Linked DNA regions of Homo sapiens: region 2 is linked to region 1. The links come from fine-mapping of genetic effects on gene expression. Tissue or cell type: whole blood. Region 1 holds a variant in brackets; the other region holds the start of a gene. All regions are shown on one strand. Distances are from middle to middle.

Region 1 (8,105 bases):
CTGCAAACCATGTCATTCAGAATACACAATCTTCTCAAGTGCACATGGAACATTCTCCAAGATAGAGTATATATCAGGTCACAAAATAAGTCATAACAAATTAAGAAAACTGAAATCATAACAAGTATCTTTTCTGATCACAATGGTATAAAACTAGAAATCAATAATAGGAGTAATTTCAGAAAATTCACAAATATGTAGAATTTAAACAACATGCTCCTATACAACCAATGGGTCAAAGAATTATTTTTTTTTTTGAGATGGGGTCTCACTCCGTCACTCATACTGGAGTGCAGTGACATGATAGTGAGATGAGAAGTCTTCTTCCGATCAAAGGTTTTTCTTGATCGAAGAGTTTGTGGTCTCATGGGCTTCAAGGAATGAAGCTGTGGACCACAGTGGCAAGTGTTACAGCTCAATTAGAGAAACGTGTGGACCCAAAGAGTGTGTGGCAGCAAGATTTATTAAAGCGAAAGTGAATGTAAAGCAAAAGTGAAAGTAAAGCTTCCACGTGGTGGAAGGGGACCTGGAAGGGTTGCCCTGGCTTGAGTGTCTTATGCTTATATGCCCTTATGACTCCTTCCCTTTTCCTTTTCCTTTTCCTGTCCTATAGGATTAGCTTATTTTCTATCCGCTTGTGGGTTGGTGGGCCTGATTGGTTAAAAACATCACGCTGCAGCTAGAGCTTAAACTCCCTATATGATTGGTTGAAGTTTCAATCCCTTAGCTTGCAGCTATGACTCATTTTGGCTTAGGAGAAAGTCCCCTTTGATTGGTTGAAGTTTCAATCCCTTAGCTTGCAGCTATGACTCATTTTGGCTTAGGGAAAAGTCCCCTTAGGGAAGTCCCTATTGACCCAGGAAGTCCAGCCAACTTAGCCACTTAGTCGCTCAATAGCTCACCACAACCTCAACCTCCTGGGTCCAAGTGATCCCCCCACCTCAGCCTCCCCAGTAGCTTGGGACTACAGGCTCATACCACCACATCTGGCTTTTTGTATTTTTTGTAGAGAAGGGGTTTCACCATGTTGCCCAGGCTGGTCTCAAACTTCTGGGCTTAAGCAATCTGCCTGCCTTGGCCTCCCAAAGTGCTGGGATTACCGGTGTGTGCCACTGTGCCCAGCCTCAAAGAAGAAATTTAAAAATCTTTTGAGGCCGGGCACAGTGGCTCATGCCTGTAATCCCAGCAGTTTGGGAGGCCCAGGTGGGCGGGTCACCTGAGGTCAGGAGTTCAAGATGGCCAACATGGTAAAACACGGCCAACATGGTGAAACCCCATTTCTACTAAAAATACAAAAATTAGCCGGGTGCAGTGGCACACACTTGTAATCCCAGCTACTTGGGAGGCTGAGGCAGGAGAATCACTTGAACTGAGGAGGCAGAAGTTGCAGTGAGCCAAGATCGCACCACTGCACTCCAGCCTGGGTGACAGAGCAAGACCCTGTCTCCAAAACAAAAGAGGAATGTTGAAAAAAGAGTAATGTTTCTCAGCACGACAAAGACTATCTCTGACAAGCCCACAGCTAACATATTTAACTGTGAAAATATTTTTTCCTCTAAGATCAGGAACAAGACAAAGATGCCAACTCTCACCATGTCTATTCAATATAGTACTGGAAGTCCTAGCCACAACAATCAAGCAAGAAAAAGCATGACAGACATCCAGATAGGAAAGAAGTAGAAGAAAATTTTTAAATGCTACTTACAAAGTTTGTTGTGAACCGTGTAACTTCCATGTAAGGAAGTAATGAATGTAGTGAAGTGTTTGTAGTCATGTTAAACAGGCTTCTGAAATGTTATTTATATACTATTTTAAAAAGACGTTTCCACAAATGTTACTTATGCAGTGTGTTGTGAAAAGTATTACTTTGGTGAAGGAACGTGGTTACCATACTGAAATTGATGTAAAATATTGGTCCAAACTCCTGACATTCCCTGAAAAGATTTATGGGAATTTCTTTGCTCTCAAGAGATTAATAAGAAATGGAATGAAGCCGGGCACAGTGGCTCATGCCTGCAATCCCAGCACTTTGGGAGGCTGAGGTAGGCAGATCATTTGAGGTCAGGAGTTCAAGACCAGCCTGGCCAACATGGTGAAATCCCATCTCTGCTAAAGATACAAAAATTAGCCAGGCGTGGTGGCAGGCGCCTGTACTCCCAGCTACTCAGGAGGCTGAGAAAGGAGAATAGCCTGAATCCAGCCAGAAGATGTTGCAGTGAGCCAAGGTCAAACCACTGCACTCCAGCCTGGGCAACAGAGTGAGACTGTGTCTCAAAAAAACAAAAACAAAAAAATAAAAATAAAGAAAAAGAAATGGAATGAGATCCTAAACTCTAAAGCCATGCCAAAACAACCTTCCTTTGAGGATTCCAGCTGACTATATTATGGCTCATTCTCATGCACATTTTGAAACAGATGGGCAAATTCTATCAAGGAAAGTTCAGAGCTCAGATGGTCACTAAGAAAACTACAACCAACTATGCGGTTAACAAGCAAAATCTTCGAAGTTCTCTATCTCTCTATTTTATTTTTTTCCTGCCTACTTTCAATCTGCTGACTTTTCTGCTGGTGTTGAGATAAAAATCACTGCTTATGACATTTGAGCCAAGATTTTTTAAAAAAAGACTTAAAGCCATTTCAAATTAATGACTTTACAAATAACAGCTCCATGATAAACAACCTAGACACCTGAACTGTCCCTTTCGGAAATGTAAATTTAGGTTTGCCTGCCTAACAACTGTGTATGGTGACAAAACAGGTAATTGAAAGACTAATAGTCTAGAAGAATTACATAAATGTTTAGAAAAGTTAGGCTCTCAGATCAGACAGGTTAAAATCTTGAGCTCAGAGCCATAATGTAAGTATCAGTGTCTGGCATAAAAATTGCTTTATCTGCCACTCAAGGAGTTAGAAAAAAATTTTTAAATGCAGATAATCTTTTTCCCACCCACACTGGAGCAGGTGGTGAAGCAAAGTAGGTCTGAGGACTGGATTGCCATGTGGACACTGTGTTAATTTCTTTTTCTTTTCTTTTTCTTTCTTTCTTTTTTTTTTTTTCTGAGACTGAGTCTCACTCTGTCCCCCAGGCTAAAGTGCACTGGGTCCATCTCTGCTCACTGCAACCTCCACCTCCCAGGTTCCAGTGATTCTCCTGCCTCAGCCTCCTGAGTAGCTGGGATCACAGGCGTGTGCCACCACGCCCAGGTCATTTTTGTAATTCTTGTCGATTTCCTGATAAAGGGGAGAGTGATTGTTACCTGGGAGAGTGTCCCTGCTTTGGGTAAAAAAACAAGTATTTTGTGTGAAATTACAAATCTGGTACAGCAATAACCACTGGAGACTTTGATAGAAAGGACAGGGATTTGTATTGCTATTGCAAGTTTTCCATAAGAATGAAATTATCAAAAAGTAATTACTTTTATTTATTTATTTATTTAAGACAGTCTCCCTCTGTCGCCCAGGCTGCAATGCAAAGGTGCAATTTCACTGCAACCTCCACCTCTCAAGTTCATGAGATTCTCTTGCCTCCGCCTCCCGAGTAGCTGGGATTATAGGTACACATCACCATGCCCTGCTATTTTTGTATTTTTTGGTAGAGACGGGGTTTCACCATGTTGGCTAGGCTGATCTCGAACTCCTGGGTTCAAGTGATCCTCCTGCCTGGGCCTCTCAAAGTGCTGGGATTACAGGCGTGAGCCACCACGCCCAGCCTCAAAAAGTAATTACTTTTTTTTTTTTTGAGACGGAGTCTTGTTCTGT[C/T]GCCCAGGCTGGAGTGCAGTGGCTCAATCTCAGCTCACTGCAACTTCCGCCTCCTGGGTTTAAGCGATTCTCCTGCCTCAGCCTCCGGAGTAGCTGGGATTACAGGCACCTGCCCCTACACTCGGCTAATTTTTGTATTTTTAGTAGAGACGGGGTTTTACCATGTTGGCCAGGCTGGTCTTGAACTCCTGACCTCAGTAATTACTTTTTTAAACAACCATGTGGGCTGGGTTCGCTTGCGTGAGGAACGCTTGCATCCAGGAGCTGAAGACCAGCCTGGGCAACATAGACATCTTCTCTACAATAAAATTAAAAATTAGCCAGGCTTGGTGGTGCATGCCTGTAGTCCCAGCTACTCAGGAAGATGAAACGGGAGGATCCTTCAGCCCAGACGTTAAAGGCTGCAGTGAGCTATGATCGTGCCACTGCACTCCAGCCTGACAGATTGAGACTGTCTAAAAAATGAAAAATAAGGCTAAGGCATGGTGGTTCAGGCCTGTAATCCCAGCACTTTGGAAGGCTGAGGCGGGCGGATCACTTGAGGTCACGATTTGGAGCCTGGGCAACATAGGGAGCTCTGTCTCTAGAAAAAAAAAATCAATCAATCAATCAATCAACCACGTCAATACCGCGTCAGTAAAGCAGAGGTGACACCAAACTTCATTCCAGAGGCTAAGCCTGACCCAAATCCAGTTCAGCCAAAGCTAGGAAACCAGTCTCCCTGGTAAGCCTCTGAATGTGATGTTAGTATTAAAAGGCTGCTGCGTGGTATTATACTAGCAGCCACTGTGTCTTAGCTGTTGAGAAGGACCTCCTGTGTGGTGGAAACCGGGGTTTTTTATTTCCAAAATTCCACATGAAGCCCTTCCTCTACTGGGGGTTCTGAAGACCAACTGCTCCTCAGTAGTCAGGACTGTGACAGGAAGGATTTTACTCACCACTGACGCAGCCTCAAGTTGTCTCAAAGTGAGGCGGTGTCCCCTTAGATCTGTGTTGAGGAAAATGAGGTTCTCCTCCTCACTGCGGGCCCGGCGCTGGCGGCCGCAGTAGGAGCACGGAGGCGGTGGGGGCTTCTCAGGGGTCCGACAAGGCGGCTCGCACGCCCCCTGCTGGTCATCTGGGGCAGCGCGGGGCCCTCGGCGCTCGCTCACTGTTTAGCGGTGGCCGCGTGCCCCCTCCTGGCTGTCTGGTTGAATTAATTAAATTCAGATCGTTCAATGCCATGATTACGGACGTTCAAAATAAAATGGGGCCCACTATCCTGTGTCTTTCTCAAAAATGTTAAAGAAATTATTAATCGGAACGAAATAAATGTAGATCCAAACTTTACAAGTTTCACAAAAATTCATTCAAAATAGTCCATTGACTTAAATTTAAAATACAAAGCTGGCCGGGCGCGGTGGCTCACGCCTGTAATCCCAGCACTTTGGGAGGCTGAGGCGAGCGGATCACCTGAGGTCGGGAGTTCGAGACCAGCCTGACCAACATGGAGAAACCCCCGTCTCTACTAAAAATACAAAATTAGCCGGGCGTGGTGACGCATGCCTGTAATCCCAGCTACTCGGGAGGCTGAGGCAGGAGAATCGCTTGAACCTGGGAGGTGGAGGTTGCTGTGAGCCGAGATCGCGCCATTGCACTCCAGCCTGAGCAACAAGAGCGAAATTCCGTCTCAAAAAAATAATAATACAAGCTATAAAAATTCTAAAGTTACATTAAATCACATGGAAAGCAATGTCAAATGAGAACTACTTAGCCAGGCACAGTGGTTCACACCTTAATCCCAGCACCTTGAGCGGCTGAGGTGGGAGAACCGCTTGAGCCCAGGAGTTTGAGACCAGCCTAGACACCCCTGCACCCTGCAACCAACCCACCTCTACAAAAAATACAAAAATTAGGTTGCTCTGCCTGTGGAGTAGCCATTCTTTTGTTTCTTTACTTCTCTAATAAACTTGCTTTCACACACACACACACACACACACACACACACACACACACACCATAGCCGGGTGTGATGGCACACACTTATAGTCCCAGCTACTAGGGAGGCTGAAGTGGGAGGATCGCCTGAGCCCAGGAGGTCAAGGCTGCAGTAAGCCATGATTAGGCCACTGCACTCCCACCTTGGTGGAAGAGACCTTCTCTCAAAAAAGAGAGAGAGAGAAAGAGATACTAACCTTCTCTAGGTTATATTTGTATGGGTAAAATGTTATTGTTTCAGAAATTGTGTCAAGTCCCTGGAAATTTGTCAATGTCCTCCCTATCCAAGATATGTCCCAATGTAATGTTATAAGTCATAATTTCAGTTAGTATTTTAAATGTTGTATGCCACAGAAACAACCAAATTTCCTTGCATTATAATGAACTTTCATTAGATCTTAACCATAGCCAATTTATATCTTTTTTTTTTTTTTTTTTTGAGACGGAGCCTCACTCTGTCACCCAGGCTGCTGGAGTGCCGTGGCACAATCTGGGCTCACTGCAACCTCCACCTCTTGGGTTCAAGCGATTCTCTTGCCTCAGCCTCCCCAGTAGCTGGGACTACAGGAGCCTGCCACCACGCCTGGCTAATTTTTGTATTTTTAGTAGAGACGGGGTTTCACCATGTTGGCCAGGCTGGTCTCGAACTCCTGATCTCAAGCAAGCCCACCTGGGCCTCCCAAAGTGCTGGGATTACAAGCGTGAGCCACTGCCCCTGGCCTATTATTATTATTTTTAGAGACGGCATCTTGCTCTGTGTCCCAGGCTGTAGTACAGTGGCATCATCATAGCTCACTGCAGCCTGGAATTTTGGGGCTCAGGCAATCCTCCCGCCTCAGCCTCCCAAGTAGCTAGAAATACAGGCATATGCCACCACGCCAGGCTTTTTTTTTTTCTTTTTTGATGGATTAGAGATGGAGCCTCACTATGTTGTCCACACTGGTATCAAACTCTTGGGTTGAAGCATCCTTCCACCTCAGCTGCCTGAGTATCTGGGATTATACGCCACCACACCCAACTATTGCTGGTTCTTTAATGTTCTATTTTCTGGATTTAAAGAAACTTTTTCTCTTATGATAACTATATCCTATAACAATTTAGGAGACTATACTTTTATAAACAGAAATGAAATATTTATCTTTTTCTCCCTGCCTGATCCCTCCAGAATTTAGAAACTCTTATTGAATATTTTTAGTTTCATGGCAATATAGTTATTTGCATAAATTCAATAAGAATCTCTTTACCTTATAACAGGACATAATTGAGAAAATTGGTAATGTCACAAATGCATTGACTGTAATGTCCCAGTTGAGAATGATGTACATAGGATCAGATATGACCAGATAATTTTAAGGAACTAAGGTTGACTTTACAGAACCAATGTTCACCAAAACCTCTAGGTTACAAAACCCTCTGTGTGACAGGGAGCCTGATACCTGAATTACAGAGTTCCAAACCTAACAAGTGAGTAGAGATGGTCACTTCCTGAAAAGACCAGAAAACAGGATATTTTGGGGTCAAGAAGAGGAGAATTCACCCAAATCTATAGTTACTGCAGGTGAAGTCTGGTGGTAGATCCTTGGCTTGGCTTCCTAGCCTCAAGAGGGCTTTTAAAAGTCCAACCTGATAGTCCTTTTTTTTTTTTTTTTTTTTTAAATTGAGACAGGTTTTGCTTGTGGCCAGGCTGGTCGAACTCCCGGGCTCAAGAGATCCCCTGACCTTGGCTTCCCAAAGTGCTGGGATTACAGGTATGAGACACCATGCCCAGCCTCAACCTAACATTCCTTATGAAAAGTTCCAGGAAAGCCAACTTAAAAAGACCTATATGGTTACCATTCTTACTGAACTTATGTAAATAATCAGGCAAACTCTAAGTCTGATCTAGACTTATTTTGCAAACAAGAATAATTTTACTTTGATTATATTTCATCAAAAATAAGGGTGACTGTACAAAAAATTTTATGTTTCAATGGAAAACGATAACTCACTCTTGAGATTTTAGAATCTCACAGGATCAGATTCTAATCCTGTTCATTGTCTTTGAGCTATTTTCACCTCTTTGAAAACTGGATCCTGCCATTTGGTGCATTATGTCCTACAAAGATACTTGCAGGAAAAGAAGCCAAGTATTGTCCCCTGCTAATGTGTCTATTGTCAGTTAACTTACAGATCTTCAACCACTGGAACAAAGTTAGAAGAGGCAAGTTTTGCTCTCAAAAATGCATGGGCAAATTGGGATATATTCATGTAATAGAATACTAATCAGCAATATAAAGAAACAAATTAGGCTAGGCATGGTGGCTCACACCTGTAATCCCAACACTTTGGGAGGCTGAAGCAGGGTTGCTTGAGTCCAAGAGTTTGAGACC
Region 2 (8,105 bases), 270 kb after region 1:
AGTTGTCACATGCCCTCTTCCCAGATCTTCGGGCAGCAGAATTACTCATCAGTGCTGGAAGCCTGCCCCCCTCCCCACTCCCCGCGCCTTGCTGTGGTGACCCCCACCCCAACCGAGTCCCCACAGCTGGGCTTGCTGTCTGCCCTGTGGTGAGTGGAAGGAATTCAGCATGAACTCTGCTCACTCAGCAGCCAGGCCTGAGAAGCACCGGACTGTGGAAAATCACATATGTTTTTCAAGTTGTTGAAAACCAAGGAAATTGTTCTGCCAGTTGTGAGGGTGGCTAGACACTGTCTGGGAGACCTCAGGTCCCATGGCTCTGGGAGCCATCCCATCTTGTGGGCCCAAACAGGCTAACCCCACTGGTAATATCCAGGCACTTGGGCGGCAGAGAAGGGGGAGTTTCTAGGAGCCTCCCCCAAGAGGGAAGAACAAAAAGGAAGGAGCCTAGCCTGGTCCTTTCCCCTTTGGTCCCAGGAGGCAGATCCAGGACTCAAGGGGAGATATGGAGGGGCTGGCATCTGTGATCCCAGTAGCCTGCTGGCCAGATCCCAGGCCTCCCAGACCTTCTATTTATCCCCCTCCCCCAGATACACATGCTGGTGCTGGACAGCTGGGCTGTGGCGGAAGTTTACATACAAAGGGTTTGCTGGGCCATCTCGGTACACACAGCTTCACTTCCTTCTGAGGCACAACCCGTGTCTGAGCTGCTGCCATGGGGGTCCTGGGGGCCACAGAGGCCATGGGGCAGGTTGGGAGGGTCTGCTCCCAGCCTCCCAGACCCTGCCACTCCTGCCTGTCCCCAGGCCCTGATGACCTCTTATCCTTCTGTGCCCTGCAGATCCCCACAGTCAGAACTCAGGCACACTGGGCCTGCTGGCAGGTGAGTTTCCACCTCTGACCAGGTTGAGGCACCAGGCAGCTCTGGAGGCTCAGGAGCTATAGCTTGGGTCCCAGTGGGAGGAGGCTGGCCTGTCCCCCTCCTCAGCTGGCACTAACAGGCCCCTGACCCAACCTCAACTTCTCTCTTGGGGTCTCAGCCCTCATGGCAGGGTTGATGGCCTCAGAGCTACATAGGACCTACTCACTGGGCCATGCTCCCTGTCTCCCTGTTCCCTGCAGGTCAGTTTCGCCAGCTTCCACCCTTGGACAGTTCTGGCTCTCTCAACAACTCTCCTTCCCATTCCAGCAGCAGCAAGGGACAGGGGGCACCCTCCCCAGCGCAGGCCCCACCCTCCCCAGCCCAGTCCTGCCGCAGTGGCTGTCCCTTGGGGTAGGGAAATGCCAAAGCAGTCCCTGCCACATCCATGTGGGAAGCTGAAAGTGGATCACCAGAGTGTCTACCAGCCCCCCACTGTAGCCCAGGAGAACACTTGGATGCAGGTGCAGACCCTGCTAAGTGGCAGGGGTAAGGGACCCTGAAAGCCACTAGGTGCTCTTGGCTACAAGCCTCCCATCCCCCTGACTGGCTTCACTCTGGCAGCAGAGGGGAGAAGTCCCCTCACCGGCCCCGTGGCAGAGCCTGGGCACAGGGCTAAAGGACTTTTTGGTGCAGGTCTTCAAGTGGAGTGGGAGTCCCAGCCCCACCACCCAAAGGGAGGCACATCAGCCTGGCATGGAGGGCAGCTGCCTCCCATCCACCTGCCCACACCCTTGGTGTCAGAGGGCCCCCAACATCATGGCCCTCCTTGTGGCCCAGCTCTCCATGAGAGCTTTTGCACATGTTTTTGTTGGTGACTCGCTGTGACTGAAGAAAAGCCTCCTTCTGTTCCTTTTTTGTTTTCTTATGGCTTCTATTTTCCCTGGCAGAGGATGTTGGACCCAAATCCAATCCATGTGTGAGTTGTTCCCAGGGAAGTGACGTGCCACGCTGCTTCACCCCAGCCTTGGGCCGCCGGGCTTGACATGCTCAACTGGGGCAACGGAGCAAATTCCCAGAACAAGTTTTGAGAAAGATGATTCAGAGCTTTGCAGAGGATGAGGAAAGGGGAGAGCTTGCGGATCCTTGCTGCCACCAGGACTGGCCTGGGGGCACGTGGCAGGCAGAGGCAGGCTCAGGTGCACAGGGAGCCTGGGTGTTGGGGCTCAGGGTCTGCTCTGAGCGCCCCAGTGGGCACAGCTCAGGTTGATCTCTGAGGGCAAATGATGAGAGCTAAAAGGCAGCAGTGTGAGTGCCAAGAATGTGTGCTAGGCACAGCACATGCATGATCCTGTATGAACGACAAGGAGAACAGGGACACAGGTGGACGGCACTGAGGCTACCTGCCGAGATGTGGTGCCTGGGAGGTAGAGCCAGAACCTGACACAGTCCCACTGCTTTTTCAAGGAGATGCAGTGAGAAAGCAAAGGCAGGGTCTTGGCAGGACCAGGTGTGAGAGGAGGCAAGGCCTCCTTGTGGTCCTGCTCCCAGGGGGTGGCATGTATCCCAGGCCCAGCAGCCTCCACTGTGGCCTCCCCGGCTGCTGCCTGCTCCAACTCACTCGGGGCTGCTCTGGGGACCCAGGTGCTTCCTGACCCACTTTTCCTCTTTCCTTTTGACCCCAGGTCCAAACTCTGCCCTGTCAATCATCCCAGGGGCTCCTAGGCTTCCCTACCTGACTACTTCACTGGGGCCAAACCCCGCAGACAATCGTGGCTTAGGGCTGTCTGCCTCTGCACTTGGCCCATGGACTACCTGTGAGCTTTCTCTTGTGTCCTCATTCCTTTAAGGGGGAATGTCCTCGGAGCTCTGTCCTTAGCTCCCCATTCCTCCAGTATGAGACAGGGACTAGGCTTGAGTCACGGGGGACTGTGCTGTGTCACGCCCTGCCATACTAATGGGACCACTCTGCCTGTTGATGGCCGTTGTAGGGCAGCCAACATTTGCCCTGGAGAAGCCTTATGGCAAACACCAGGCACCAAGGTGCACATCCCTGATGGATCCTGGGATCAGTTGACACTCAATCCACCTGCCTTCTGGGTCCTCTGGGCCCTCTGGGTCCATGTGGCAGCTGGAGGTATGGTAGACACTTTTTAAAAAATGAGTTCTGGTAAGAAGAAGGTGATAAATGGCTATTTGTCCACGTTGGGACCCGGAGGGGAGGGATGGCATGCCCTTACATGGGACTCCTACCCCCAGCGGGGCAGCTGGCCACTCTGAGGGCAGTTTTGCACCTGCCTCCTGGCTGGAAAGTGAGTTCCCACTGTGCTGTCCCTCCCTGGGGCCCAGCACGGGGCCCGGCCCCACACCGACCTGAAGAGGTTGGTAGGATGACTGAATGAATTGACGCTGGGATGCAGCAGGGCCCATGGGCAGAGGCTCCAGAGCCTGGGAAGGATGGGGTGGCCTTTCTGTGGCCCTCCGAATTGAGAGAGGTCTCAGAGGCCTGACACCACGGCTTTCCGTCCAGGGTTCCTGGTCACCCGCGGAGGGCTCAGAGCCCCGGTGGACTCGGGGTCCCGCCTTAAGGGGGGTGCCTAGGGCAGAAGGAGGAGGGATGTCGGCCCCCTCAGACCCGCACCCCAGGCCCTCCCCACCACCTTTCCTTCCCTCAGGCCCTCTGTCTTCCCAGTCGCCCCGCCCCCTGCCCCTCTGTCCTAGGCGCAAGTCTCCGGGCTTGGGACGCTCGCCGCCAGCGCCCGCCCGCCTGCCCCGCCCCTAGCCCCCCGCCCCCCGCCCCCCGCCCCCCCGCAGCCCCTCCGTCCACTCTCGGCTCCTCCTTCTCTTCCTCCTCCTCCTCCCCGGGGGTGGGGAGCCGGCTCCGGAAGCCCCGGCGCCCCCGCCCCGGGCCCCGCCAGCGCTTTGGAGACGGCTATCCGCGCGGGAGTGCGCCACGCGGGGCCGGAGCGCCTATTAGCCGCCAGGACCTCGGAGCGCCCCGACCACCCCTGAGCCCCTCTGGCTTCGGAGCCCCCCAGCACCCCTTCCCGGGTCCCCTCGCCCACCCTAATCCACTCTCCCTCCCTTTCCCGGATTCCCTCGCTCACCCCATCCTCTCTCCCGCCCCTTCCTGGATTCCCTCACCCGTCTCGATCCCCTCTCCGCCCTTTCCCAGAGACCCAGAGCCCCTGACCCCCCGCGCCCTCCCCGGAGCCCCCCGCGCGTGCCGCGGCCATGGCGGCCGTGCGCGGGGCGCCCCTGCTCAGCTGCCTCCTGGCGTTGCTGGCCCTGTGCCCTGGAGGGCGCCCGCAGACGGTGCTGACCGACGACGAGATCGAGGAGTTCCTCGAGGGCTTCCTGTCAGAGCTAGAACCTGAGCCCCGGGAGGACGACGTGGAGGCCCCGCCGCCTCCCGAGCCCACCCCGCGGGTCCGAAAAGCCCAGGCGGGGGGCAAGCCAGGGAAGCGGCCAGGGACGGCCGCAGAAGGTAAGAGCCCAGGGCAGGGCGGGGGTGTGGGGGGCTGGCATCTCAGGTGGGAACAGGGGGATTCGGTAGGGTCTGGCCACTCCCCAGTCTGCTAGGGGAGGAATGGCTGGCTTACTAATGCGCACGCGAGCCCAGATGCCTGGAGGGACCCTGTGCTAGGCCGAGGTCAGCGCTGGCGTGGAGGCACATCCAGCACCCGGGCGGCAGGGCCGCTTTTGGGGGCCGGTGGCTCTAGGGTTGGTGCTGTGGTTGTACGGGTCGCTTATCCCCATTCCTCCAGTACGCGACAGGTACTAGGCTTGAGCCACAGGGGACTGTGCTGTGTCACCCCCTGCCATACTAATGGGACCACTCTCCCTGTTGGTGGCACAGCTTCACGTCGTCCCTCCCTCCTGCCTTTGCCCTCCTACTCCAGGAGGTCTCACGTAGGTGAGAGAGTTTCAGGTGGTGGTGAGCACAGGGCTTCAGGTGGTGGTGAGCAATGGGTGGTCCTACATTAGTACAGGAAATTAGATGAGGTGATGCATCACTGAAGCATTTAACCCACGGCCTCTTGCATAATCAGTTGTCAGTAAATCTTAGCTGTTTTCATCGTGGCCCTCTGGAAGGTGGCAGAGGGTCTTGTGATCCCTGTCTCCCAGGAGATTCCAAGGCACCATCCAACATTCCTGATGTCAGCAGCCCCTCCCCTGCCACCCCAGCTCTAGATCTTTCCTGGCTGCTTCCCACACCCTGGGCTGCCTGTGCCCCTCCTGCCTCTGGCTCTCCTTCCAGGCTTGCTCTCCTGGCTCTGGGGCACCGCTCTAGCAGCCCTGCGTCCCCTGGCTGTCTGCATTTGGTAGCTTTCCTGTGTTTCTGCCAAACTTCCCTCATGCTCCCCACCTCTCATCAGGTTCTCAACAGCACTTGCAGCTCCTGCTTAGGGTCCTGGGAGGATTCCCATGGGGAATCCTCACAACCAGTCCCTGCTCCCTCTCCCAGACTCTGAAATGAGTGTGCAGCCACAAGCTCCCTACCTGTCTTTTCTGTCCTCTGTGTGATCCCTGAACCCCCCAGGACTCCCTATCCTTCCAATCAATTCCAAACCCCTTACTTCTCGAAAGGAGACCACTTCCTCTTCTTTGGGCTTCAATACTCAACCAAGTGTCCCTTTTCTTTGAAGCTTTTCTTGCCCCGTAGGAGACCAGGGGAAGGTCTTGGGCCCATGTCCCTTCCTTTGTATGGCAGTTGGCAGGGATGACCAGATGCTCCTCCAGGCCTGGATGGCTCAGTCACCTCTCTGCCCCTTCTGTGCCCAGAACAGAATAGTGGAGGAGTGGATAGTAAGGAACCCCTATTGAGGTTTTGGCAGGTGGGGGGATGAGGGCCTCCCCCTGGGAACTGGGAACCCTACGCTCAGTCTTTAGAGAGGTTGAGATTGGTGGTCACAGCCCCAGACTTGCAGACAGAAAATCTGGGTCCGGATCCCAGTTTGCCACTTGGGCAAATGACTTAACCTCTCAGTTTGCTGATCCGCACTGGGAACTGACAAGAGTCCCTGTGCCCAGGTTCTGGGCATCTAGAGAGGGGCCTCATGGGGGCACAGAGCTGGCTCTGTTCATTTGACACGAGTCTGCATCTTGGACAGTGCCTCCGGAAAAGACCAAAGACAAAGGGAAGAAAGGCAAGAAAGACAAAGGCCCCAAGGTGCCCAAGGAGTCCTTGGAGGGGTCCCCCAGGCCGCCCAAGAAGGGGAAGGAGAAGCCACCCAAGGCCACCAAGAAGCCCAAGGAGAAGCCACCTAAGGCCACCAAGAAGCCCAAGGAGAAGCCACCCAAGGCCACCAAGAAGCCCAAAGAGAAGCCACCCAAGGCCACCAAGAAGCCCCCGTCAGGGAAGAGGCCCCCCATTCTGGCTCCCTCAGAAACCCTGGAGTGGCCACTGCCCCCACCCCCCAGCCCTGGCCCCGAGGAGCTACCCCAGGAGGGAGGTTTGTGCCGGGCTCCTCTGGGGTGATGGGGCTCTGACTGCCTGCTCGGGTGGAGGCAGGGAGTGGGAGGCAGGTTTCTGGGGCCCTGCTTCCTATAGACCTTCAGCTCCCCACTGGATGGGAACCTCACTTTTGCTATAAATTTCACAATTTGATTGGTGGGCTCCCTCAGTGCTGTAGCCTCTTTTGGGTAGGGAGAGGGCTTGGCAGCCTTTTGGGTGGGACCTCTGTCCCTCAGGCCCCTGCCCAGATGTCCCTGGGCTCTGAGCCCATGGAGTTCCCTCCTGCCTTCTCCCGCTGGGGACAGCTTTGTGGTAGGGCCTCCAGCAGCACAGTAGGTTCCCCAGAAGGTGGGCCCAGCTCTCTGGCCCCATGAGATGCCAGCAGGATGCTGAAGGCCAGAGGAGCTCAGGCCTCCTTGGAGTGAGCTCGGCCTCAGGAGGGTGTCCACAGGCTCTGTGTGGGCTCTATGGGTGGCTGGTGGCCTGAGGCTCCCAAGGTGGTCAGAGCAGGCCTCCCGCCCACCTGCTTCTGGAACTCCTGTGTTGCAGGGGCGCCCCTCTCAAATAACTGGCAGAATCCAGGAGAGGAGACCCATGTGGAGGCACGGGAGCACCAGCCTGGTGAGTGGCCGTCATCCGCCTGGCCTTGGGGCCAGCTGCCCTGGCTGGTTGGACTGAGGGCTTCCCCAGAGTAGGCCTGGGTGGGGTTGTCAGGCAGCTACCAGCGCTTTCCCCTCAGAGCCGGAGGAGGAGACCGAGCAACCCACACTGGACTACAATGACCAGATCGAGAGGGAGGACTATGAGGACTGTGAGTAGGGTCCTGCCAGCCCCACCTGGGTCGGACCCCTGGCCTGGGGGATGTGCCAATGGGCCCATCCCAGCCTTGGGCCCCACTCTGAGCCAGCCTCCCCCTCAGTTGAGTACATTCGGCGCCAGAAGCAACCCAGGCCACCCCCAAGCAGAAGGAGGAGGCCCGAGCGGGTCTGGCCAGAGCCCCCTGAGGAGAAGGCCCCGGCCCCAGCCCCGGAGGAGAGGATTGGTAGGATGGGGGGCAGGAGAGGAGGTGCCATGGCCACGGCGCTCTGGCCCCCTCCTAACCTCCCCGCCTCCCCAGAGCCTCCTGTGAAGCCTCTGCTGCCCCCGCTGCCCCCTGACTATGGTGATGGTTACGTGATCCCCAACTACGATGACAGTGAGTACCCAGCACCCCAGAGTCTGAGGGACATAGGCAGGTGGGGGTCGGGGCTGGGGTGTGGTCAGGAGCCAGCTGGGGCAACTCACCCACCTTGCAACCCCACCTGTGCCCGTGGTTACCTCGCTGTCCCTGCTGTCCCTGCGTGCCCACCCCAGCCACTGCCCTGTCTCCTCTGCCCTCAGGCTGGTCTTTCCTTGGCCGCTTCCCTGGTTCCTGCTTGGCTGTGACCCCCACAGGGGTGTCCCTAGGCACACACTCTGCCCTGTCACCCATGTGGGTTCCAGCCCTCCCAGTCCTGTGCTCTAACTGGCTTCCCGCTGGCTCGTGGCCACTGCCCCACTCTCTTCAGGGAGCCCGAGGGCTTTTGCCTCCCTGTTGCTCATGCCCCTGCGTCCCTGGAGCCCTCAGGTTCCCTTTCCTCCTGGGTGGCAGCCCGTGCATCGCCATTTCCCTGCCCCCAGGTCCCCATCAGTGCCTCCAATGTCTCCCCATCTCACCCCCCAGCCCGCAACCCCAGGCACAGGTGCCAGTTGTCCCTCCAGGCCTTTCCCATGCCCTGGGCCTCGAGTCCTTTCCCCAGGCCAGATGCT

What was found. PIP is the estimated chance that this variant, and not a neighbour inherited with it, causes the effect.
Region 2: AEBP1 starts here. The variant in region 1 is fine-mapped to the expression of AEBP1 in whole blood (INTERVAL, PIP above 0.99).

The regions. Positions count from the first base shown.
Region 1 is chr7:43,834,168-43,842,272 of GRCh38, forward strand. No RefSeq gene overlaps it. Among named protein-coding and RNA genes, the nearest start is that of MRPS24, 31 kb to the right of the region's middle. RefSeq lists enhancers at 399-518, 443-737, 649-1,018 and a silencer at 4,925-5,004. The variant C/T (reference allele first, on the strand shown) is at 3,760.
Region 2 is chr7:44,100,573-44,108,677 of GRCh38, forward strand. AEBP1 (AE binding protein 1) reads left to right here and starts at 3,773. Exons shown (of 21, transcript NM_001129.5): 1 at 3,773-4,346; 2 at 5,974-6,315; 3 at 6,867-6,938; 4 at 7,057-7,128; 5 at 7,237-7,359; 6 at 7,435-7,512. The coding sequence starts at 4,094. RefSeq lists enhancers at 226-727, 728-1,227.